2 separate regions of the Homo sapiens genome follow, and region 2 is linked to region 1. Evidence: fine-mapped expression QTL. A gene starts in region 1. The other region holds a variant in brackets. All regions are shown on one strand. Distances are between the middles of the regions. Region 1 holds the start of FIBP (FGF1 intracellular binding protein). Region 2 overlaps DRAP1 (DR1 associated protein 1).

Region 1 (8,623 bases):
TATGAAGCCCCGAGTCTCCTGCCCTCCCTGAACCCACCTGGCCCCCTCAGCTCTGTCCTGTTAGGCCAACTGCCTCCTTGCCAGCCCCACCCCCAGGTTTTTGCCCATCCTCCCAATCTCAATACAGCCTGAATAAACCAAGACAAGACCTCTGGCTTGTGAGCAGACTCTTCTGGTGGATGGGCTGAGCACAGACACCATTCCCTGAGATATGTCTCAGTTCCCAAGGAGCCACTGTACACATCCATCCTTGTACACGGACACCAGGTGCTCAGAGACAGACACAGGCACATCTGCACGCCCCCCACTTGCTCCCCGGAGCGAGGACCAGTCTCCAAACTCAGAGCAACTTTATTGTCAGCGTGGGCGGAGCGTTGGGAGGCACCTCAGTCATGATACAGGCGCAGGAGGCAGCCGCGGAGGGTGCCCATGTAGCGGTCCCAGAGGGCCTGGTGTCTGTAAGAACATGAACAGTGACAGCTGAGTTTTCACAACACTCACCGTGATGGAGGCCCTGCCCTGCGTGCTTTCTACACCTTCATTCATTTTGCCCTTAGAAAATCCTTACAATTCTTCTCATGATGAACCCTAGTTTGTACATGAGGAAACTGAGGCATGGAGAGGTTAAGAAACCTGCCCCAAATCACACAGCTTCTAAGAGGGAGAGCCAGAGCTTTGGTCCAGAGACTTTGGTCCCACCCCCAGGGTAGCAGAATGGGGAACCTTGAGTCTGCAGGAGGCGAGGTCCTGGCAGGTGGCAGGCTGGGGCAAAGCCAAGCTGGACAGGAGGACAGGGCTGCTCACCGGAAGCCATCGAGGGAGTGGACAGACGCTGAATACTGATTCAGGAAGAACCGCACGTCGCTGAGTGGCCAGTGGTCGGAGCGGCAGGGTTCCACAAACTGCGGGCCCAAGAGAATACTTAGCACTTGTATAGGCCAGGGACAGACCAGGTTGGGTGTCAGAGAGCACGACAGCTCACCTTCTCCACGAGGTCCACAAACAGGTCTCTGACATCTTTATTGTGGGTCAGCTTGGCGGCCACGTTCACCAGCCCCCGGGACAGGTTCTGTGGGGCAGGGATCCTTGGAGCTCTGCTTTCTGCCCCAGAAGTTGGCAGCTGAGCACAGAAGCTGGGGGAGGAGGAGCAGGCCCCTCCCCAGATCCATCCACCTCCCTCCATCAACCAAGTCCCCATTGTTTATGAGCTGCTCCCGTCAGCGGCCACCAGAGGGAGCAGCAGTGCCACCTGCCGGCCAATCCCTGGCAGGGGCAGAGCTGCCCGGTAGGGGTGGCGAACTGGAGGCTGAAGATGCCAAGGGTCAGAGGCTGGATGGGACCACAGACCTTGAAGTTGGCTTCCATCTCAGAGAAGACGCCCAGCTTTCCCCGGAGAGCAGTGCACACCAGGCTGCAGAGAGACAGGGTCACGCCTATAGCCACCTGGGCCCCTACTGCAGGCCCCGCCCCATGGGCCCCTACAAGGTCACCTCTTGTGCAGGTCCAGAAGGTCCTTGTCAGCCACTAGCACCTTGAGCTCCTTCAAGTCCTGGAGAAATTCCTTGTCTAAGTCCATGTCCATGTCATCCATCTGTGAGTCTGTGAGGCCATGAAGGGGGTGGGGGTGGGTGATAAAAACCCCTCCTGTGATAGCCTAAGCCTTTCCTCACCCACCACCTTATTTCCCCCCTGGGGACAAAAGAGGAAATGGAGTGTCAGAGAGATGGAGTGACATGCCCCAGGCCACAGAGAGGCAATGGGCCCTTTGTCTGCAGACAAGGTGTGTGTGGGGAAAACATTCTATGGGCAGGGGGAGCCTGGGTGGGGGCCATGAACAGGAGCGGATGCCAGGAACTGAGGGCCTGTGGGAGAAACTACTGGTGGGGAATCAGGTCCTGAGGATGGGGAGGCGTCCAGGCACCTGGGTCAGTGGGGGCCTCACCGACGGCTCCAAGGGTCCAGTTTTGGATCATGAGCTCAGCGCAGAAGGCAAAGTCACCGAAGCTCAGATACTGCAGTTTTTTCTTCCCTGTCTCAAAGCGGTTGTTAGCAAAGAAGACGATGGCTGCATAGTCCCTGCACAGACGAGAGGAGGGTCCTCTTAGGGCTTGAAATTCCTTCTTAGGAAGCAGCTCCCACCTGCAACCTCAGCTGGGTGTCCGAGTTCTGGCCTCTCTCTGCCTCAAGTCACTGTGTGACGTGTCTCAAGTCACTTCTCTATGACCCTTCCCCATCTGTGCGAAGAGAAGGTTCCAGCTCAAGTTTACTAGTGGATACAGTGGGAGACCATAAGGGTAACAGTTACTATCTACTGAGCACTTCCTAAGTGCCAGGGCTGTGCCATGGGCTTTACATATGGTACCTCTCAACAGCCCAGCTGGAAATCGCTGGACTGTGCTTTGAATCCAGGTCAGTCTGGTCCAAAGTACAGACCAAGCTGGGTGCGGTGGCTCAAGCCTGTAATCCCAGCTACTCGGGAGGCTGAGGCAGAATTGCTTGAACCAGGAGGCAGAGGTTGCAGTGAGCCAAGATTGCACCATTGCATTCCAGCCTGGGCAACAAGAGTGAAACTCCGTCTCATTAAAAAAAAAAAAAAAAAAAAAGTACAGACCAAAAGTGGGATAATCATTCCCCCAGCATACTCAGGAGGTCAGAAGGTTTGGGGTAGGGAAGGTGGACGAGCCTCCGGGCCCAGGAAGTAGTGTGCGGGATGGGGAGGTGGCTAGCTCCTCACCTGGCCAACCGGTCAGAGAGGAGGAAGTGTTGCTGAATATTGTCCACCAGGGAGCCCCGCATTTCCTCTACCACCTTGAAGACCCGTTTAAAGTTGTCAAACTGCAGGGCAGTTAGGGTAGAAGAGAGGACTGGTCAGAGTGTACACTGTGTCGCTCACCCAATAAACCACTTATTGAACATCTCTCCCTTCCCCATCCACCTATCCAGTCAGCAGATGCTGATTTAGCATTTGTTATTCCTTCAACCAACTATTAGTTATTAGTACTTGTTATCAAATCAAATGCTTAGCAACTCCTGCTGTATCTTGCCTTGGATAAATGTTTACTCAATCTTATCTCTAAATCCAACCCCATTTTAGCACCATGCTCTCCAGATCTTCACAAGTTTGAGTTGGAAGAGACTTTCCTGGCTAAGCCCTAGAAACTAAAAAATAAAAAACAAATGCTAAGCTATAAACAGAAAGCTCACAGGAGATACAAAAGAAAGGCATCAAAGACCCAGAAGGGTTACTTCTTCCTGGCGTACCAAAAAGGCTTGTGGAGAAGGTGGCATCTCACCTCTTGTCTTGGATTTCAAGGGGTAGATATTGCCAAGAACAGTACCCTCCAGGTAGAAGCAACATGAGTAAAGGAAAGCCTGGGGCTGGAGAAATGTAAGCCTAGAGAGGTCTGCAGGGATGAGATAACAGGACAGTCCATAGGTCAAAGCCAAGGAGTGCAGCTGCTACCCAGGAGGCAGTGGGAGCCAATGAAAGTTTATCAGGGGTCTGATAAAATTTCAGGTCATTCTGAAAGGTCACTCTGGCCATACAGTACAGGATAGCTTGGAAGGCACAACAGGGAGCCAGGCACGGTGGCTCACGCCTGTAATGTCAGCACTTTGGGAGGCCGAGGCGGATGATCACTTGAGGCCAGGAGTTCAAGACAAGCCTGGCCAACATGGTGAAACCCTGTCTCTACTAACAATACAAAAATTAGCTGGGTGTGGGAGCGGGCGCCTGTAATCTCAGCTACTGCAGAGGCTGAGGCACAAGAATTACCTGAACCCAGGAGGCGGAGGTTGCAGTGAGCTGAGGTCGCGCCACTGCACTCCAGCTTGGGCCACAGAGCAAGACTCCATCTCGAAAAAAAAAAAAAAAAAGGAGGGGAAAGGGGAAGGGAGGAGAAGACTAGGTATGAAGCTGCTGCCACAATCAGAGGCTGGAACTGGGCCAGTGGCCAAAGGGAGGGAGTGAAGTGTAGATGGGATGCTGTGTCCGTGTGGATGCAGTGCATACCTGTCTCCGGCAGCTCTTGAGGGTGATGCCTGTTTTGGTGCTGATGTCATCCAGGTCTTTCTTGGTGCCTTTGGACAGCTTCTTGCCCAGCACCTCCCGAACAAAGGCCTCATCAAAGGCATAGTACCTTGTGGAGTCAGAGAACACCATTGACCCTCCATAAAAGACAGGAAAGGGAGTCTGGCGGGGCCTAGCAGGGCCTAGGTCTGACCCCTTCCACTCTCAACTTTCTGATGGCTGGGTAAATCCCATCCCTCCCTGGGCCTGTTTCAGCCGGCAAAATGGGTATACAGTCAGACTGGTTGATGTCTCCACCATCCCAGAGGGTGAGCACCTCTCGATGAGTAGTGCCTGCCGGGAGGGCGGAATCTGGAAGATGAGCTGGTGCAGTAGCTTGGGCGGCGCATGCAGCAGCCGCTCGAGCATGTGGAAGGTGCGGTAATGGTCCATGGTGTCGCTCTGCAGCACCGCTGCCGTGGCGCCAGTCTGCTCCAGGATTCCCGAGCGCACCCGCAGGGCCACCGCGTCGGTCACTGGAAAGCGGACGCTAGCATCAGGCCCCGCCCCGCCGACGCCAGAGGCCCTTAAGGGTTTCCATCCCAGACCCCTATAACACCTCTTATTCCCAGGCGCTCGCCCACTTCCCTAAAGGATGCCCAAGTCTTAGCCCCGCCCCCTCTCCCATTCAACACAACCGCTCCGCCGACTGGCTTCCCCACACGCCCCTCACGGACCCGAGTAACCATCGAGCCAGAGGCGATACACGTCCTCGTCGATAAGGGTCGTGTTCCCCACGAAGATGTCCAGCTCACTGGTCATGGCGACGCCCGGGGCCGCAGCGCCCCGAGCAGGAGCGAGCACTGCTCGGGACTGGCGCGCCGCCTTCAGGCCACTTCCGGGAGCGCCGAGATTCCGCTCGCGGCATCGGGACCCAGCTTATGACCACTTCCGGGACACAGCCAGTCGGGGAGGGGACGGGGCGGGAGCGGCGAGGGAAGAGAGGGGGAGGCCTGCGCGGAGGAGCACCGCTTCCTCCCGCCGGGAGGGGGAGTCCCGGGCTCCTGCGTCCTGTCTCCCTCCCCGGCCGTCTGCAGGAGCACGAAGGGAGTGCCTCCTCTTCGTCTCCTCGGTCCCCGTAACTTCTCCCCTCACTTCCTCCTGGCTTTTCTCCCACCTTCTCTGCCCTCTTCGGGACCTCCTAAGTTTGACCTGTATCCTAAACTTAGGGGTTTCACAGGGCTCTATCCTAAATCTCCGCAAAAATGGGGTATGACCCGACTTCCTCGGGCTCTTGCTGGAGACTGGTTTGTCCATCCTGCGCATGAGCACCTCTCCTGGGTTTGGGGCACCTGCTCCCACCTTGGTTTTAATCCCACCCCCAGCCCCACGAGCTACTGACGTCTCTAATTCTGCCCCTCCGAGCTCTGCCTGGAAGTCCACATCCGGAGGGGCCGCCTATCGGCCAAGTCTATCCACACTCTTCCCGTAAGCCCCTCAAAAGCTCAACATATTCTAGACAGACCTCTGCCTCTCCCCATTTGTTTCTTTCCTGCGTCCCTATCTCAGTGACAGCCCTAACATCCACCAGTTCTCATACGAGAAACCTGGGCGTTCTTCCAGACTCCTCTCTCCCCACATTCAGTTCGGCTGATTTGCCTCCCGAATATTTCTAGTATCTGTTTGTCCTCTCCACCCCCACTGATGCTGCCCCAGCCGTCTTTCTGCTTAGCTCTCCTTGCTCTTGCTCTTTGACACCGTTACTAATCTCCCTGTTTATGTCCCCTCCCCGCAGGGTCCGGCCCACACAGATCAGCCCAATCTTTTTAAATACATTTTTTTTTTCGAGACAGCGTCTCGCTCTGTCGCCCAGGCTGGAGTGCAGTGGCGCGATCTCGGCTCACTGCAACCTCCGCCTCCCGGGTTCAAGCAGTTCTCTGCCTCAGCCTCCCGAGTAGCTGAGATTACAGGCTCCTCCCACCACGCCCGGCTAATTTTTGTATTTTTAGTAGAAACGGGGTTTCACCATCTTGGCCAGTTAAAGGCATATTTTAAAATGTTACTCCCTTGCTTAACATCCTTACAAATGTTACTCTCTTGCTTAACATCCTTAGTGGCCTTTGGAAATGCTCCAACCTGGTACTGGAAGTTCTTAAGAATCTGGCTTTTACCTACCTTTGAAGCCTCGCTCTCTCTCTCTTAGCATTTTCTCGACACATCTGCTTTTCAAAAACCAAGCTATCCTCATTGTTCCTAAAGCAGCTAGGCTCTTTCGGGCACCAGTGTCTTTCACTATGTTATTCTCTCTCCCTGAAATAGCTCTTTACTTGGCAAAGTCCTATGGATCTACCAGAGCCTCTTGGATAGCATCTCTTTTGGGAACCCTCTTAAGGACCCTCAGACCATACTCCTCCCGGATTTATTTCTTGCTTAACACAGCTTGACTTCCCGGACAGACTGCGACCTCCTTGAGGATGGAATCGGTATTTTGGTTAAATTTATTTCTGCATGGGCCTTGCACATAAAAAACGTTTATTGAACAAACGAATCCTGTATGTTCCTCCCCCCAGGCAGGAAACGCTCCCTGGGAGGGAGGGTAGTCTATTGGTGAGCTAGGACGTTTGGACTCAGGGTTCCGAGGAACCAGGAGCGATCCTTAGTGGGCCGAGACTTCCGAATTTGATCAAAGGTAAAGAGGGACTGGAGAGCGGTCCATCTGACTTCTGTGGGGGATGGGCAGGAGTCAGGGGCGGACGCCTGAATCTTGTTTCTCAGAAGAGCCGAGAGGCCTAGGCTCAAGCTTGGGGCGATCCGGTACTTGGAGGTTCGAAGCTCCTAGTTTCGGGTTGAGACCGATGTGGAGGGCGATGACGCGCGGGTTCCTTGACATCGAGGATCAGTAACACCCGGAGTGGGTGGGGAACGAGGGGGGCGGCCCCTGAGCTCAGGCCCCGCCCCTTTCCGGGGACGTTTCACCGGATTGGCTGTCCTTCCATAACGACATGCGGCCCCGCCCCGGCGCGCGCCCCGCCGCGTGCCCAGCCCGGGTAGCTGCTGCAGCCTACGCTGCCTCGGCCACTGCCTGCCGCGTGCGGAGCCGGAGCCCGAGCCTGAGTGGCGCCGGGCCCGACGTGGGGCTCCTGGGCCGCGGCGGCGGGCGGGCGATGCTCCAGAGGCCTGACCAGCCATGGAGGCCGAGGCAGGCGGCCTGGAGGAGCTGACGGACGAGGAGATGGCGGCGCTAGGCAAGGAAGAGCTAGTGCGGCGCCTGCGGCGGGAGGAGGCGGCGCGCCTGGCGGCACTGGTGCAGCGCGGCCGCCTCATGCAGGAGGTGAATCGGCAGCTGCAGGGCCACCTGGGCGAGATCCGCGAGCTCAAGCAGCTCAACCGGCGTCTGCAGGCAGAGAACCGTGAGCTGCGCGACCTCTGCTGCTTCCTGGACTCGGAGCGCCAGCGCGGGCGGCGCGCCGCACGCCAGTGGCAGCTCTTCGGGACCCAAGCATCCCGGGCCGTGCGCGAGGACCTGGGCGGCTGTTGGCAGAAGCTGGCCGAGCTGGAGGGCCGCCAGGAGGAGCTGCTGCGGGAGAACCTAGCGCTTAAGGAGCTCTGCCTGGCGCTGGGCGAAGAATGGGGCCCCCGCGGCGGCCCCAGCGGCGCCGGGGGATCAGGAGCCGGGCCAGCACCCGAGCTTGCCTTGCCCCCGTGCGGGCCCCGCGACCTAGGCGATGGAAGCTCCAGCACTGGCAGCGTGGGCAGTCCGGATCAGTTGCCCCTGGCCTGTTCCCCCGATGATTGAAGGCACTGCTTCCTCCACGCCGACGCCCGCCCGGATTGCTCCCCGAGCCCCGGGACCGCTGTGGACCTCGGGACCTGGACGCCGTCCTGGCTGCGCAGGAGGGGCCGCTGGCATGGACTAAGAAATCCTGACACCAAGAAGGGCCCCTCGCTCTTGCTGGCAGGGCAGCAGGGGGACTGAAGGCTGGAGCGGAGGGACTTGCTGGGGGTTGGATTGGGGGTAATAAACCCGGACGGAAGCGGAGCCCACGGCCTGGGCAGCGTCTGTTTGGTACTCGCCGGGGTTGGGGCGAGGGTGGGGTGCTGATACAGGGTACAATTCCCATCCAGAAGGACTGCAGAACTAATGATTCCCCCATTACTTCGAGCCTGGGGTGGGATGCGGGGCAGTGGTAAACCAGACTTCCCCCATCGGGCGCCGGGACCGGCCTTAATCCAGCCCCTGAAGTGGCTCCAGCTCCCTTCCCGGCTCCTTCCTGTCCAAGACAATGGGGCAGGAAGCAGGTGCTGGGGGCCTAGAACCACTCGGCCGCCTCCTCTGAGGCTGGAAGGGGGCATAACAGCGCCCCTCCGTGGCACACGCAGCAGCACTGTGGGCCCCCACGGGGAGAGGGGCGGTAAGCCTCTTCGCTTTTACCCCAGAGGACTGTCTCCCCTCAGTCCCGGAGATGAGGCCGAGCGGATGTAGCCCCACTTGTCAGATAAGACAAAGTCCAAAAATATCAAAGAATTTGTCCAAGGTCATGCAGTGAGTCTGTAGAGCTAAGGCTGGGACCTAGGGCTCCAAATACTCTCCCATTGGCCTCTGGGTCCAGTGAG
Region 2 (15,888 bases), 41 kb after region 1:
GCAGCTGCCCCTGTGGAGGGCACGGTGGGGCTCAGGCCTGACTCTCTCCTGCCTTCTGCCCTGCAGCCCCCCGACACCCTTCCTGCCCTTCGCCTCTACTCTGCCTTTGCCCCCAGCGCCCCCGGGCCCCTCAGCACCTGATGAAGAGGACGAAGAAGATTACGACTCCTAGCGCCTTCTGCCCCCCAGACCATAGCCCCTTTTAGTTGGTTTTAGTTGCTCTGGGGGGAGGAGAGAAGGTAGAGCTGTTCTTAAATTTATTAAAAAAAAAAATAAAAGGGAATCTCAGTGTCTGTTCCAGGCTCTGCGCAGGACGTCATGGTTGCCATCCCATCCACCCACCTGCCTTCCCCACATGAAACTGGGAGCTGGGGCCGGGTGCGGTGGCTCACGCCTGTAATCCCAACACTTTGGGAGGCTGAGGCGGGCAGATCACCTGAGGTCAAGAGTTCAAGACCAGCCTGGCCAACATGGTGAAACCCCGTCTCTACTAAAAATACAAAAATTAGCTGGGTGTGGTGGTGCATGCCTGTAATCCCAGCTACTAGGGAGGCTGAGGCAGGAGAATCGCTTGAACCTGGGAGGTGGAGGTGGCAGTGAGCTGAGATCACGCCACTGCACTCCAACCTGGGCAGCAGAGTGAGACTCCATGTCAAAAAAAAAAAAAAAAGAAACTGGGAGCTGGGGCCGCGTCAGTGGCAGGTGAGGTGGCAGCGAGGGGAGAGAGGGGTCATCCGGGGAGGCTGGAGGCCCTGGGTCTGCTGAGTGCACCACAGCTGCGGACAGAAGGGAGTTGGGAGAGCTTGCAAGTGCTGGGCATGCGGGGGACACTTGCCACGTGGTGCTGCTGACCCCCGGTGGGCTGCTGACCCCCGGCGGGCTGCTGCCCTGCTCTGAGCAGCCCCTTGTCTCTCTGATGGAGACTGTTCTGCCCCCTGTAGTCTGCTGTGAAGGGATAAGTGGGACAGGGAACAGGTACAGGTCTTGGAAACTGTAGAGTCCTGTGTCCAGTGTAGTGAAGGGCAGGTGGAAAGGAGCAAACATAGAGAGATGGTGGAGGGTCTTGAAGGTGGTTTTTGAGCAGGGCAGTGACACAGTCTGTTCATCCAGATAACCTTTCAGAGCAGACCCAGGAGCTGTGCTGCCTGTAAAGCAGAGGTACTCGGTGAGGCTGGGGAGGGCGCAGGTGGCCCACATGGGGCCTCCTGGAGCCCGCAAGGCATTCAGTTTTAAAGGTCTGCTGGCATGGTGGCATATGCCTATGGTTCCAGCTGCTTGGGAGGCTGGGACAGGAGTTCCAGGCAGCAGTGAGCCATGATTGCACCACTGCACTCCAGCCTGGGCAACAGGAGCAAAACTCCATCTCAAAGAAAAAGAGTCTGACATCCCCAAGTACTGCAGAGGAAGAGGCTACACGGCACTCATACACAGCTGGTGGAAATGTCAGTAAGTACAACCACTTCGGAAAACCGTTCAGCAGTTTCTTATTAACACACACACTTCCCCTATGACCCAGCAATTCCACTCCTAGGTAGCTACCAAGAGAGATGGTGGCATAGGGCCACTGGAAGACATGTACAAGCCTGTAGCCCCAAACTGGAAACAGCTCAAATGCCCATCAGCAAGAGCAGGAATAAGTAAATGGTGGAATGTTGTATGATAGAACAGCAGTAAAAGGAACCACTGTCAATGCAACTCCCTGGGTAGATCTTGTAGACCTTACGTGGAGCAAAAGAAGCCAAACAAAAAAGTACATGGGCCAGGTGCAGTGGCTCACACTTGTAGTCCCAGCACTTTGGGAAGCCAAGGTGGGCAGATCGCTTGAGCTCAGGAGTTCAAGACCAGCTTAGGTAACATAGTGAGACCCTGTCTCTACAGAAAAATACAGACATTAGCTGGGCATAGTGGGGCCCGCCTATAATCCCAGCTACTCAGGAGGCTGAGGTGGGAGGATGGCTTTAACCCAGGAGGTAGAGGCTGCAGTGAGCTGAGATTGCTCCACTGCACTCCAGCCTGGGCGACAGAGTGAGACCCTGCCTCAAAAATTAATTAGTAAAAATGAAAAAGAGTACACCCTGATGTAATTCATTTAAGCCAAGCTCAGGAACAGGAAAAACTAATCAACAGTGATGGAAGTCAGTACATCCATAAGGGGTGGGGATTGGCTGGGGGTCGGGTACAGGGAGCCTTCTGGAAGTGTTCTTCAACTTGACCTGGGTTATGTATAAAACGATTAAGCTGTACACTGAAGATTGGTGCACTTCTTTGATACCTTCCTAAAAGTTTTACTTAATCTTTATCTATCTATTGAGACCCTATTGCACACCAGACACTGTTCTAGGTAGTAGCGATCAAGTGAACAAAATGTTCTTGGAGTTTATTTCTGAAGTGGTGAGACAGACAATAAAGATGTATCATGCCAGTCATGGTGGCTCACACCTGTAATCCCAGCACTTTGGGAGGGTGAGACGGGTGGATCGCCTGAGGTCAAGAGTTCGAGACCAGCCTGACCAACATGGTGAAACCTCGTCTGTACTAAAAATACAAAAAATTAGCCGGGTGTGGTGGCAGACGCCTGTAATCCCAGCTACACGGGAGGCTGAGGCAGGAGAATCGCTTGGACCCGGGAGGCGGAGGTTGCAGTGAGCCAAGATTGTGCCATTGCACTCCAGCCTGGGCAACAAAAGCGAAACTTCGTCTCAAAAAATAAAAGATGAATCGCATGTCGGATGGTGATCCATGCTGTGGGGAAAATAAATAAAGCAAAACAGGCGATCCAGGGTGATAAGGGAGGCCTGCATCCTTTTTTTTTTTTTTTTTAGAGACGGAGTCTCGCTGTGTCTCCCAGGCTGGAGTGCAGTGGCACGATCTCAGCTCACTGCAATCTCCACTTCCTGGGTTCAAGCGATTCTCCTGCCTCAGCCTCCCGAGTAGCTGGGATTACAGGTGCCTGCCACCACGCCCAGCTAATTTTTTGTATTTTTAGTAGAGACGAGGTTTCACCATATTGGCCAGGCTGGTCTCAAACTCCTGACTTTGTGATGTGCCTGCCTCGGCCTCCCAAAGTGCTGGGATTACAGGCATGAGCCACAACACCCAGCTTTGGGGGGCCAGCATTCTTAACTGAGTTCAGGCAAGACTCTGGTGACAGTGAGCATGGAGTGGGCGGGCTCACAGCCTTCCGTGGGGAGAGGGCTCCAGGGAGAGGGAACAGCAAGGGCAAAGTCTGGGAGAATTGGATTTAATCTGTCAGTTTCCCTGTGGTCTCCTCTGCTCCCACTGCGTCAGCCACCACCCAGGGCCTGACTCAGGGGCCACCAGCTCTGGACTCAGCCCACCTTAGCTGGGAGGTGTCCTTGTGGCACTGACAGCCCCTTGGGCCTGAGAAGCTTGGTGCAAAGGGAGAAGGAAGAAGCATGGGGCACCTACCACACCCCTGCCCTGGGTGCTGCTGGACCTGGGGCCCCAGAGGCTGGGGAAGGAGGCAGAAGGGGAAGGAGAGTTGAATGACTGAGTGAACCTGCTCGTCCTCTCCCAGCCTCATCCCTGGCCTGGTCAGGGAGCTGACGTGCTATGGGATCTCTTGATTTCCCCTTTCCCTCTCTGGGCTTTGCCCTCCACAGCCATGAAATAGGTCTGCGGATGCCTCCCCCGTGGTTGATGGGAGGCAGGAGGCGTTGCAGCAGCACGTTGCTCTGTGCTTGTCAGGTGTGAGGCCACCATCAGTTTCCCTGCACCCCCGAGCCCTCCTCTAGGAGAGATGTCCTCATACCCCCACCTTATGGATGAGGAGACTGAGGCTCTAGAAGTGACATAGTGGCCCAGAGGTAGGCAGGGGTTTGGTCTAGGCATGTATGTCGTCCAGGACTTGGAGAGGTGGAGTTAACAGCTTAACCCCCAATACACACCCGAGGGCCATCCCTTTCTCTGGAGCAGGGACACTTGGCTCCAGGACATAGACACGACCAAATTCCCACTCAATTAGGCTATGGGCCCTGAGGCAGGGGACTGGCACCCGTGCTCTGGACAATCTACCAGGGGCCTGGTCCCTCCCCTCTTTGGTGCAGGGCCTTTGATGAGAGTGGGTCTGGACTTTCTCGGGGGGCTCCTTGTATCCGGAGAGTGACAGGGCTATGTGACTGCCACCTCCCATCATCAGAGTGAACTATTTCTATTCTGAAATCCCATTTTTCCTATTGTGTGTTCAAATGTCGTTTTAAAAAATGGAATAAGGACTAAGATTTTTGCCAGTAATCAGAGAGCTGCAAAGAAAAACAGGATCCCACACAATGCCCATCAGATAAAACTGAAAACCGGATAAAACCTGTTGCTAGTGAGGATGCCAGTGAATGGAATTCTGGCATTTGGTAGGCATGTAAGTTAGTGGGGATGTTTGAAAGGGCATTTTGGCAGTTGTGTGTCCCCTGGCAGGTCCACTCCTGGGTTAAACCTCTCACAAGCAGAGAGATGTGTCCTAGGCATGGTTTGAGGTGGCAGAAAAATCAGTGTCCATCAATGGAGAACTGCCTGGGCAGAAGGCAACAGGGATAGAGCTTAAATGCAGAGTGCTGAGTGACAAATAGTCAAATAGAGAACAAGAAACAAAAAACGCAGACATACATGAGAATCCTTTATACGGCATTTCTGCCACTTACTCTGTTACCTTGGACAAGTGACTTTAAGCTGTCTCTACCTCTGTTTTCTTTTTTCTTTTTCTTTTCATTTTTTTGAGACAATCTCTCTCTCTGTCGCCCAGGCTGGAGTGCAGTGGAGCAGTCTTGGCTCACTGCAACCTCCACCTCCCAGGTTCAAGCGATTCTCCTGCCTCAACCTCCTGAGTAGCTGGGACTACAGGTGCGTGCCGCCATGCCCGGCTAATTTTTGTGTTTTTAGTAGAGACAGGGTTTAGCCATGTTGGCCAGGCTGGTCTCAAATTCCTGATCTCAAGTGATCCGTCAGCCTCGGCCTCCCAAAGTGCTGGGATTACAGGCATGAGCCACCGTGCCTGGCCTGTTTTCTTTTATAAATAAATAAAAGAAAGGCAAGGGAATGGTACTTGTGATCCAGACCCTCCACCACGGGTCTGGTCCCTCCCCTTTTTGGTACAGGGCCTTTGATTAGGGTGGGTCTGGACTTAAACACAGGTGTGTGTGTGGAACAGGGCATGGAGAGGTGAAGTTAACAACCTATCCCGCCACACCTGAGGCCATTCCTTCCAAGTTACAGGGATGCTCGGCTCCAGAACATGGACGAGACCGTATAGATACAAATATATATGTATATGTCTCTATATACACAAATATATGTATTTTTATATGTATATGTGTGTGCCTATATATGTGTGTATATATATGTGTGTGTGTGTATGTGTGTGTATATATATGTACACACATATATATATGTATATATATATTTTTTGAGACATGGGATCTCACTTTGTTGCCCAGGCTGGTCTCAAACTCCTGACCTCAAGTGATCCACCCTCCTCAGCTTCCCAAAGTGCTGGGATTACAGGCATGAGCCACCCCACCTGGCCTCTACCTCTGTTTTCTTTTCTTTTTTTGAGGCGGAGTTTCTCTCTTGTCACCCAGGCTGGAGAGCAGTGGTGCTATCTCGGCTCACCACAACCTCCGCCTCTCAGGTTCAAGCGATTCTCCTGCTTCAGCCTCCCGAGTAGCTGGGATTACAGGCATACGCCACCACACCCGGCTAATTTTGTATTGTTTTTAGTAGAGACAGGGTTTCTTCATGTTGGTCAGGCTGGTTTCAAACTCCTGACTTCAGGTGATCCGCCCGCCTCGGCCCCCCAAAGTGCTGGGATTACAGGCGTGAGCCACCTTGCCCAGCCTATCTCTATTTTCTAATCTGTAAAACGGGGATCATAATAGCACCTCCTTCAGGGACATGTGATGGTTTCATGAGATATGA[T/TA]ATGTAAGTCGCTCAGCACAGTGCCTGGCATACAGTAAGCACCCAATAAATGGTGCCTGCTGTTATGGACATTTATGGAAATAAGATCCTGGAAAGCAGATTGGAAGGGCATGTACTAAACAGACAAGGGGATGTCGTGGCTCAAAGCAGCAGGAGTAGGACTGGGATGCAGGGAAGGGGAGAGTCCATTGAAAGGGGAAGCTTTAGGCTGGGTGTGGTGGCTCAAGCCTGTAATCCCAGCACTTTGGGCAGCCAAGGTGGGCGGATCACCTGAGGTTGGGAGTTCCAGACCAGCCTGACCATCATGGAGACACCCCATCTCTACTAAAAATACAAAATTAGCCGGACATGGTGGCGCATGCCTGTAATCCCAGCTACTCGGGAGGCTGAGGCAGGAGAATTGCTTGAACCCGGGAGGCGGAGGTTGCGGTGAGCCAAGATCGTGCCATGGGACTCCAACCTGGGCAACAGGAACGAAACTCCATCTCAAACAAACAAACAAACAAACAAAAAAGAAAAGAAAAGGGAAGCTTTTCAGGGCCCTATGGCTGCATGGAGTGCCCCAAACTAAGGCGCATGTCTGCTTGATTCTATGCACCCTGTGTTGAAAAAACAGAAAAGACATTGTCAGAATGGGCCCAACCTCAGGGGACAGCATCACATAGGGCAGGGTAAAGCATGGCCCTGCAGGATTCATGGGATCATACATTGTCTTCATTCAGTCACTCAAGAAATATTTGCTGAGTACCTACTCTGTGCCGGGCCCTGCTCTGGGCTTGGGGAAGGTGAACTCAGAGAAAACACACAGAGCCTCTGCTCCCTAGCTCAGTCCAGTTGGGGGAAGGGGCAGCAGACTGATGGTAAACAAATAGGTACATTCACGCCTCTCCAGGGGTAGTGGGGAGAGGGGACCCCGAGGAGGCCAGCGTGTTGAAGCCGCAGCAAGCAAGTGGGTGGGCAGGGCCCTGGTTCCTCCAGGGGGGTGCGGCTGCCCTGTTTTTAGCCACAGATGCTCTTCCATTCCAGCCTGGTGCCCAGAGTCGGTTTCACTTTCCTCTTACCCGTTTTCTTAGAGTTTGGTTTCTGTTTTGTGGGTTCCCTGCCCCCCTTCCGCCTTTGTCTGGAGTTGCAGATTAGCCTAGTGGTTCTCAACCCTGGCTACATCTTAGAACCCTGGGGAGCTTTTTTTTCTTTTTTTCTTTTTTTTTTTTTTGAGACAGGGTCTCATTCTGTCTCCCAGACTGGAGTGAAGTGGCGCGATCTTGGCTCACTGCAACCTCTGCCTCCCAGGTTCAAGTGATTCTCCTTTCTGCCTCAGTCTCCCCAGTAGCTGGGGAGGCTACTCGCCACCACGCCTGGCAATTTTTTGTATTTTTAGTAGAGACAAGTTCTCACCATGTTGACCAGGCTGGTCTCAAACTCCTGACCTTAAGTGATCCACCCGCCTCGGCCTCCCAAAGTGCTGGGATTACAGGCCTGAGCCACTGTGCCCGGCCGACCCTGGGGAACTTTAAAATACCCATATCTGGGCCTGTCTTCAGTTAGATCAGAAGCCCTGAAGATGAGCCTTCCCAAACTCTGGTCTCGTCTTCTTAACTCGGTGAGAACAACGGTTGCCCTCCCAGTGCAGTGGTAGGAAAATCACCTATGCAATGTCAGGGCTCCTCCCCTTTATCTTCCGTTTTTCAGGGATCACAGCCCTGAGCTGCCCTTTGTCTAATATCTGAAAACACTTGTTTCCTGTGCTTTGTCCAGTTTCTTAGCTGTTTGTAGAAAAAGGGCAATTTCAGTTCACCTTACTTCCTCAAGGCCAGAACCTAGAGTCCCTCCTCATCCTTTGAACTCCCCAAGTCCTTCACCTGTCCCCTCTCCAAGTTTCTTCCCATGCTCTGGCTGGGATAACTGTGCTTGCAGGTTTCACCTCCACTTCTGGAAAGCGCCCCTCTTGGGGACACAGGGCCTGTCGGATTCACGTCTGTGTCTCCAGGATGTCTCACAGGGCCTGGCACGTGGTAGGTACGTGGTGGGCATGTTTTTGTGCATGGGTCTGCCCTGCCCTTCTTCCTTCAGGCCACCCCAAATCATATCCGTATCCCTAGAGAACTGACGCCCACCCCACTCCAACCAGGTGGCACCTCCAGGACCGCTGGTCAAGATACCCTCCCCACAGCCATTGGTCAGGGGTGGCCGTGAGACTCAAGACAGCACATGTGGCCGGGTGCAATCGCTCACGCCTGTAATCCCAGGACTTTGGAACGCTGAGGCAGGCAGATCACCTGGGATCAGGAGTTCAAGACAAGCCTGGCCAACATGGCAAAACCCCATCTCTACTAAAAATACAAAAATTAGCTGGATGTGGTGGTGGGTGCCTGTAATCCCAGCTACTCAGGAGGCTGAGGCTGCAGAATTGCGAGAACCTGGGCAGTGGAGGTTGTAGTGAGCCGAGATCGCACCACTGCACTCCAGCCTGGGCGATAGAGCAAGACTCCGTTTTTTAAATAAATTACCCAGTTCCAGGTTTTCTGTTATAAGCAACAGAGAATGGGTGAAGACATTTATTTTTATCTTTAATAATGTATTTAGGCCAATTGTATGCTAGAGAGACCTGACTACTACAAGACATCATTGTATGCTTGCCGAATAAATGAAATACCATTGATTAATTTGCAAACCACATTCCCAGTGCACCTGAGGTGGCTTCCAACAAGAACAAGGAAGGTAAAATTTAAAAAACAGAAATGGAGATTCAAGAATGTGGATGGGTGCAGTGGTATACACCCGTGCTACCAGTGGTGCACTCCCAGCTACTCTGGAGGCCCGAGGAGGGAGGATCACTTGAGACCAGGAATGTGAGTCCAGACTGGGCAACATAGCAAGATCTTATCTCTAAAAACAAAAAATTTTAGGCCGGGTGTGGTGGCTCATGCCTGTAATCCCAGCACTTTGGGAGGCTGAGGAGGGCGGATCACGAGGTCAAGAGATCGAGACCATCCTGACCAACATGGTGAAACCCTGTCTCTACTAAAAATACAAAAATTAGCTGGGTGTGGTGGTGCACGCCTGCAGCCCCAGGTACTCGGGAGGCTGAGGCAGCAGAATCTCTTGAACTCGGGAGATGGAGGTTGTAGTGAGCCAAGATCGTGCCACTGCACTCCAGCCTGGTGACAAAGCGAAACTCTATCTGAAAAAAAAAAAAAAAAAAAAAATTTAGGCCACATGGGATGGCTCACACCATAATCCCAGCACTTTGGGAGGCCAAGGCAGGAGGATCACTTGAGGCCAGGAGTTTGATACCAGCCTAGGCAACATAGTGAGACCCTGTCTCTAAAAAAATTATTAAAAAATTTTTTAAATAAAATAATAAAATATAATTAAAAGAGAAAATAAAGATCAGAAACAATAGCATACATATATAAATATGCAACCCATAAAGGCCTGTAAAAGTGCTTTATTAATTCAATATCAAATTTAGTTCTGAGCTTTCTGGCAGCCAAAGCAAAAAACTTTTTTTTTTTTTTCCGGAGAAAACTTCTTCAGTGGAAAGAAATTTTTTCCTAGACTTTAGCTGCAAAAGAACAGTTTCAGATGGGGCCTGCGGTGTGATGTGGTGAAGGCCAATCTCAGCCGCATTCGCACAGCCAAAGCCTGTAATAAGCCTCCCACAATGAGTCCTTGGAGAATGGGTCCAGGCGATTCAGTTGTTCTCATTTGGGCTCGCCTTGACCTCTCAGTGGCTCTTGTCATAGTTGGTCGCTTGCCTCCTCTTTGAAACACTTTCTTCACTTGGATGGGGGCCCTCACTCTCTTGGCAATCTTTTTTTTTTTTTGAGACGGAGTCTCGCACTCTCACCCAGGCTGGAGTGCAGTGGCGCCATCTCGGCTCACTACAAGCTCCGCCTCCCGGGTCCACACCATTCTCCTGCCTCAGCCTCCCGAGTAGCTGGGACTACAGGCGCCCGCCACCACGCATGGCTAATTTTTTTTATTTTTACTAGAGACGGGGTTTCACCGTATGAGCCAGGATGGTCTCGATCTTCTGACCTTGTGATCCGCCGCCTCATCCTCCTAAAGTGCTGGGATTACAGGCGTGAGCCACCGCGCCCGGCCTCTCTTGGCAATCTTCTTCCCCACCGTGGGCTGTGGTCTTGTCTCCATGGCCACATCTCCCTGACCTCTCTTGACCTCTGAATGGTGGTGGGCCCAGGCTCAGACCTCTCCCCTGCCCTCCCTTCCCCTCCCTTCCCCTCCCCTCCCACTTCCTGGATGACAGGCCACTGTTTCCACCCCAGGCCCTCCAGTCTAATTTCTACTCACAGCCAGAGGGAGTGCAGCCATTACATCTTATGCTGCCATTTCCTCATCGTCCTGTGATCACCTAAAGTTACTAAACAAATCTCTATTAAAGTGCCCAGTTTTGTGTAGTGGCCAAATCCCAGAACTTGATTTAGAATGAAGTATTCTTGGGCTGGGCGTGGTAGTACGCACCTGTAGTCCCAGCTGGTCGTGAGGCTGAGGCTGCAGGGATCGCTTGAGTTTGAGGCTGCAGGGACCCAAGATAGCACCACTGCACTCAAGCCTGGGCAACAGAGCGAGAGCTTGTCTCAAAACAAACAAACAAACAAACAAACAAACAAAAAAAACGAACACAGCTTTTTCCACTTCTGGCCATTGCAGCCCCCACTGATAAGGAGTCAGGGAAGTCGGGTCTGCGCCTCTCCCTGGCCCCATTCCCAGGCTTGAGAAGACGCTGCCTTTGGAGAACAGGGAGGGAGGGCAGTGGGTGCAGAGAGTGCATCCTGGATTGACACTGGTGTAAGATGGCATCTCACTCCTTGGGTGGCAGCTGTCTAAAGCTGGCTCCTGCCCTCAGGGGTTTTATGGGCTCCCTTATGTACTACCCCCTTGACTGAAACTCCTGGCAAAGGGGCAGCCCCTCTCTGTTGACTGGCTCTGGTTTTCTTTCAAGTGGCATGCACTACCCCACTCTGTTGCATACCCTGTGCCAGAGAAAACAAGCCCGTGGGGCCAGACCCCTTTTTCCATTCCTGCGGTCCAGTGCCCACTGCAGGTCACCTCCTTTCTGGAGGCCTTTCCTACCAATGACCCACGGGGGTGCCATGACTGCAGGAAGCCCACCTCAAGCGCTCTGGGGGGCTTCCTTGAAGCACTTCTCACCAGATTTGAGGTTAGAAGGCAGCTCCCCAGCTCCACCCCCTGCAGACTCACTGCCATAGCAGCTCTTTCCAAATCAAATCACCGCAAACTGCCCCTTTCAAATCCACCCTCGATCCCTTTATACTCTTGCGGTGGATGAGGGGCTTCGACAGTGGCAACATGGGTTTCTGCTTTCTTTAAAATTTTGCAGTTTGGCCAGGAGCAAGCACTTCACTTTGGCATTTCATATCCATTCCATTCTAGAGCCTCAGTCAAATATTCTTGCACGCTGTTCATCCTTAGGACAAACCCAGAATCCTTTCCCTGGCTCCCAGGCCCCACGTGATCTGACTCTTGAGCACCCCCCCATGGAGGTTTATTTATTTATTTTTTTGAGGCGGAGTCTCACTCTGTCGCCCAGGCTGGAATACAATGACGCGATCTCAGCTTGCTGCAACCTCTGCCTCCCGGGTTCAAGTGATTCTTGAGCCTCAGCCTTCCGAGTAGCTGGGACTACAGGTGTGTGCCACCATACTTGGCTAATTGTTTTGTATTTTTTTAGTAGAGACGGGGTTTCACCATGTTGGCCAGGCTGATCTCAAACCTCTGACCTCAAGCGATCTGCCCAACTCGGCATCCTAAAGTGCTAGGATTACAGGTGTGAGCCACCGTGCCCAGCCCCCCATGGAGGTTTAAAATATCAAAATACCAACCTGGGCACAGTGGCACACACCTGTAGTCCCAGCTACTCAATAGGATCGTTCTAGCCCAGGAATTTGAGTCCAGTCTGAGCAACATAGCAAAACCCCATTTCCAAATAACATAAAATATCAAAATACCAAAAAACATTACAAATAATTGTATGTTGGTAAATATAGAAACTTAAGCAAAGTAAATACCTTTCTGGAAGAATGTGAAATGTCAAAATTGGCACAAAAATATCAAAACTTCAGTAGACCCATAACCAGGAAAGAAAATTGAGTAGCTCATGCCTGTGACCTCAGCACTTTGTTTTATTTTGTTTTTGAGATGGAGTCTCACTCTTATTGCCCAGGCTGGAGTGTGGTGGCGCAATCTCGGCTCACTGCAACCCCTGCCTCCCATTTTCAAGCGATTCTCCTGCCTCAGCCTTCCGAGTAGCTGGGATTAAAGGCGCCAGCCACCACGCCCAGCTAATTTTTTTGTATTTTTAGTAGAGACAGAGTTTCACCACGTTGGCCAGGCTGGTCTCGAACTCCTGACCTCAGGTGATCCACCTGGCTAAGCCTTCCGAAGTGCTGGGATTACAGGTGTGAGCCACTGCACCCGTCCTAACCTCAGCACTTTGGGAGGCTAAGGCAGAAGGATCATTTGAGGCGAGGAATATAAAATCAGCCTGGGAAACATAGCGAGACCCTGTCTCTTGGGAAAACAACAACAACAACAACACTACAATAGGCCGGGCACAGTGGCTCACGCCTATAATCTTAGTACTTTGGGAGGCTAAGGCAGGCAGATCACCTGAGGTTGGGAGTTCGAGACCAGCCTGGCCAACATGGTGAAACTCTGTCTCTACTAAAAATACAAAAATTACCCGGATGTGGTGGCACATGCCTGTAATCCCAGCTACTTGGGAGGCTGAGGCACGAGAATCACTTGAACCTGGGAGGTGGAGGTTGCAGTGAGCCGAGATCACTCTACTGCACTCCAGCCTGGGCGACAGAGCAAGACTCCATCTCAAAAAAAAAAAAAAAAAAAAAACTAAAAGAAAAAGAAACTTGTAATCTGAGACTCCAATGTGAAAAAACCCAATAGAAATGTTTTTATAGGGCAGTTCTACCAGCCTTTGGAGGAACAGATGGTCCTTATCTCACACCAGTTGTTACAGAAGCCAGAAAGAGAGAAGGCTGCCCAATTTCTTGTATGACCCCCGCAAGCCAGATAAAGACAGTATCAGAAAAGTCTGTACACAGAGCATTTCGTTATGGACACAGATGTTAAGCGTAAACTAATAGAATAGAATATAGGAAAATACCCCACCTAGGGATAGGAAAAGAAAGACTCTCAAAATACAAAGCTCTATTCAAAAACATTTATGAGTCTAACTCCATCAAAATTAAAGATTTTTTTTTTACCAGACTTAAAAAAAGATTAAGGATTTCTGGCCAGGCACGGTGGCTCACACCTGTAATCCCAGCACTTTGGGAGGCCAAGGTGGGTGAATCACTTGAGGTCAGGAGTTCGAGGGCAGCCTGGCCAACATGGTGAAACCCCATCTTTACAAAAATTAGCCAGTCGTGGTGGCACATACCTGTAATCCCAGCTACTCGGGAGGCTGAGGCAGGATAATTGTTTTGAACGTGGGTGGTGGAGGTTGCAGTGAGCTGAGATTGCACAACTGCACTCCAGTCTGGGTAACAGAGCGAGAGAGCGAGAATCCGTCTCGAAAAAAAAAAAAAAGTACCAGACCTCATTTTATGACCCCAGGGTTAGTCAAAATTCATAAGGTGAATAATGTCAATGTTTGGTGAGAATGTGGGCAGACAGAAATCCTTGGTCTTCTGTAGGCACATAAACTGACAGCCCTTCTCTCAAGCAATCTGAAATTAGGTGTATGTTTATGCCAAGACCTTACACTCTCAGCCTTGGATAAGTAGGCCAGAGAGATTCTCATTCAGGTGTACAAAGAGGCATGTGCAGCGGTGTTGACCACGGTGTTCTTTGTGAGAACAGGACTTGGGAGCCAGTCTGGCATCCATTGTCAGAAGGATGAATTAAGTAAAGCATACAAAGGGAAACTACGGAACACTATGCAACAGTCAGGATCTACAAGGCTTTTAAAACACAGTGCGGGCCAGGCACAGTGGCTCACGCCTGTATTCCCAGCACTTTGGGAGGCCGAGACGGGCGGATCACCTGAGGTCAGCAGTTCAAGACCAGCCTGGCCAACATGGTGAAACCTGGTCTCTACTAAAAAATAAATACAAAAATTAGCTGGGTATGGTAACGCAAGTCTGTAATCCCAGCTACTTGGGAGGCTGAGGCAGGAGAATTGCTTGAGCCCGGGAGGTGGAGGTTGCAGCGAGCTAAGATTGCACCACTGCACTCCAGCCTGGGCAACAAAGCGAGACTCTGTCTCAAAAAAAAAAAAAATCAAAAAACAAAAAACAAAAACAAAAACCACAGTGTTAGCAGCGGAGGGTGGCATGTGCCCATAATCCCAGATACTTGGGATGCTGAGGCGGGAGGATCTCTTGACCCCAGGAGTTTGAGGCCAGCCTGGGCAATATGAGACCTTGTCTCTAAAAACAAAACGATGGGGCATGGTGATTCATGCCTATAATTCCAGCTTTTTTTTTTTTTTTTTGAGAAGGAGTCTCGCTCTGTTGCCCAGGCTGGAGTGCAGTGGCATGATCTTGGCTCACTACAAGCTCTGCCTCCCGGGTTCACGCCATTCTCTGGCCTGAGCCTCCCGAGTAGCTGGGACTACAGGCGCCCGCCACCATGCCCGGCTAATTTTTTGTATTTTTAGTAGAGACGGGGTTTCACCATGTTAGCTAAGATGGTCTCAATCTCCTGACCTCGTGATCCTCCCTCTTCGGCCTCCCAAAGTGCTGGGATTACAGGCGTGAGCCACCGCGCCCAGCCTAATTCCAGCTTTTATTTATTTATTTATTTATTTCTGAGATGGAGTCTTGTTCTGTCACCCAGGCTGGAGTGCAGTAGTGTGATCTCAGCTAGCTGCAACCTCTGCCTGGGTTCAAGTGATTCTCCTGCTTCAGCCTCCTGAGTTAGCTGGGACTACAGGTGTGTGCCACCATGCCCGACTAATTTTTGTATTTTTAGTAGAGACGGGATTTCACAGTGATGGCCAGGCTTGTCTTGAACTCCTGACCTCAAGTAATCCACCTGCCTCGGCCTCCCAAAGTGCTGGGATTACATGCATAAGCCACCTTGCCCAGCCTGATTCTAGCATTTTGAGTAGGCTTAAGCGGGAGGAGTCCTTGAGGCCAGGAGTTCAAGATTAGCCTAGGCAGCATAGTGAGACCTCTGTCTCTCCAAAACTAATTTTTTTTTAAAGTAGCCAGGCATGGTGGCACATGCCTGTAGTCCAAGCTACTCAGGACGTTGTGGTTGTGGTAGAGGATCACCTGAGCCCAGGAGTTCGAGGCTGCAGTGAGCTATAATCACACCACTGCACTCCAGCCTGGGTGACAGAGTGAGGCCTTATCTCTAGAAAATAAAATAAATTTTAAAAACCCTAAAGCACAGTTTTGAAGGAAACGAGTAAGGAACAAAAATGAGATCAATACTGCTTATGCAAATTAAATACATACAATACCATTTATTTATTTTTATACTTAGTTTTATTTTTTATGTTTTTCTTGAGACAGGGTTTCACTCTGTCACCCAGACTGGAGTGCAGTGGTGTGATCATAGCTCATTGCAGCCTCAACCTCCTGGGCGCAGGTGATCCTCCCGCCTCAGCCTCCCGAGTAGCTGGAACTACAGGGACACGCCACCATGCCCAGCTAATTTCTTTGTATATTTTTGTGGAGCTGGGGTTTCACCATGTTTCTCAGGCTGGTCTCCAACTCCTGAACTCCAGCAATCCACCTACCTTGACCTCCCAAAGTGCTGGGATTACAGGCGTGAGCCACTGCACCCGGACCACAATACCACTTACATAAACAAAAAATACATACACACAAAAATGATAAAAGCTTCACAATGATCCGTTAACATCTTTCTTTCTTTCTTTTTCTTTCTTTCTTTCTTTCTCTCTCTCTTTCTTTCTTTCTCTCTTTATTTATTTATTTTTTTCAG

Evidence for each region. PIP is the estimated chance that this variant, and not a neighbour inherited with it, causes the effect.
Region 2: its variant is fine-mapped to the expression of FIBP in whole blood (INTERVAL, PIP 0.92).

Annotation. Positions count from the first base shown.
Region 1 is chr11:65,883,588-65,892,210 of GRCh38, forward strand. It overlaps FIBP (FGF1 intracellular binding protein), which reads right to left and starts at 4,884. Exons shown (of 10, transcript NM_004214.5): 1 at 4,747-4,884; 2 at 4,347-4,545; 3 at 4,013-4,139; 4 at 2,735-2,835; 5 at 1,943-2,076; 6 at 1,491-1,599; 7 at 1,348-1,411; 8 at 983-1,069; 9 at 805-902; 10 at 153-456. The coding sequence starts at 4,831. The coding sequence ends at 387. CTSW (cathepsin W) reads left to right here. Exons shown (of 10, transcript NM_001335.4): 10 at 1-154. The coding sequence ends at 31. It overlaps CCDC85B (coiled-coil domain containing 85B), which reads left to right and starts at 7,086. Exons shown (of 1, transcript NM_006848.3): 1 at 7,086-8,048. The coding sequence starts at 7,197. The coding sequence ends at 7,805. It overlaps FOSL1 (FOS like 1, AP-1 transcription factor subunit), which reads right to left. Exons shown (of 4, transcript NM_005438.5): 4 at 8,462-8,623. RefSeq lists enhancers at 1,500-1,559, 4,785-4,854, 8,497-8,546, 8,587-8,623 and silencers at 4,975-5,114, 6,877-7,356.
Region 2 is chr11:65,921,264-65,937,151 of GRCh38, forward strand. DRAP1 (DR1 associated protein 1) reads left to right here. Exons shown (of 7, transcript NM_006442.4): 7 at 67-300. The coding sequence ends at 172. Among named protein-coding and RNA genes, the nearest start is that of DRAP1, 9.8 kb to the left of the region's middle. RefSeq lists a cis regulatory region at 6,609-7,174 and enhancers at 6,711-7,140, 6,855-7,149. The variant T/TA (reference allele first, on the strand shown) is at 5,929.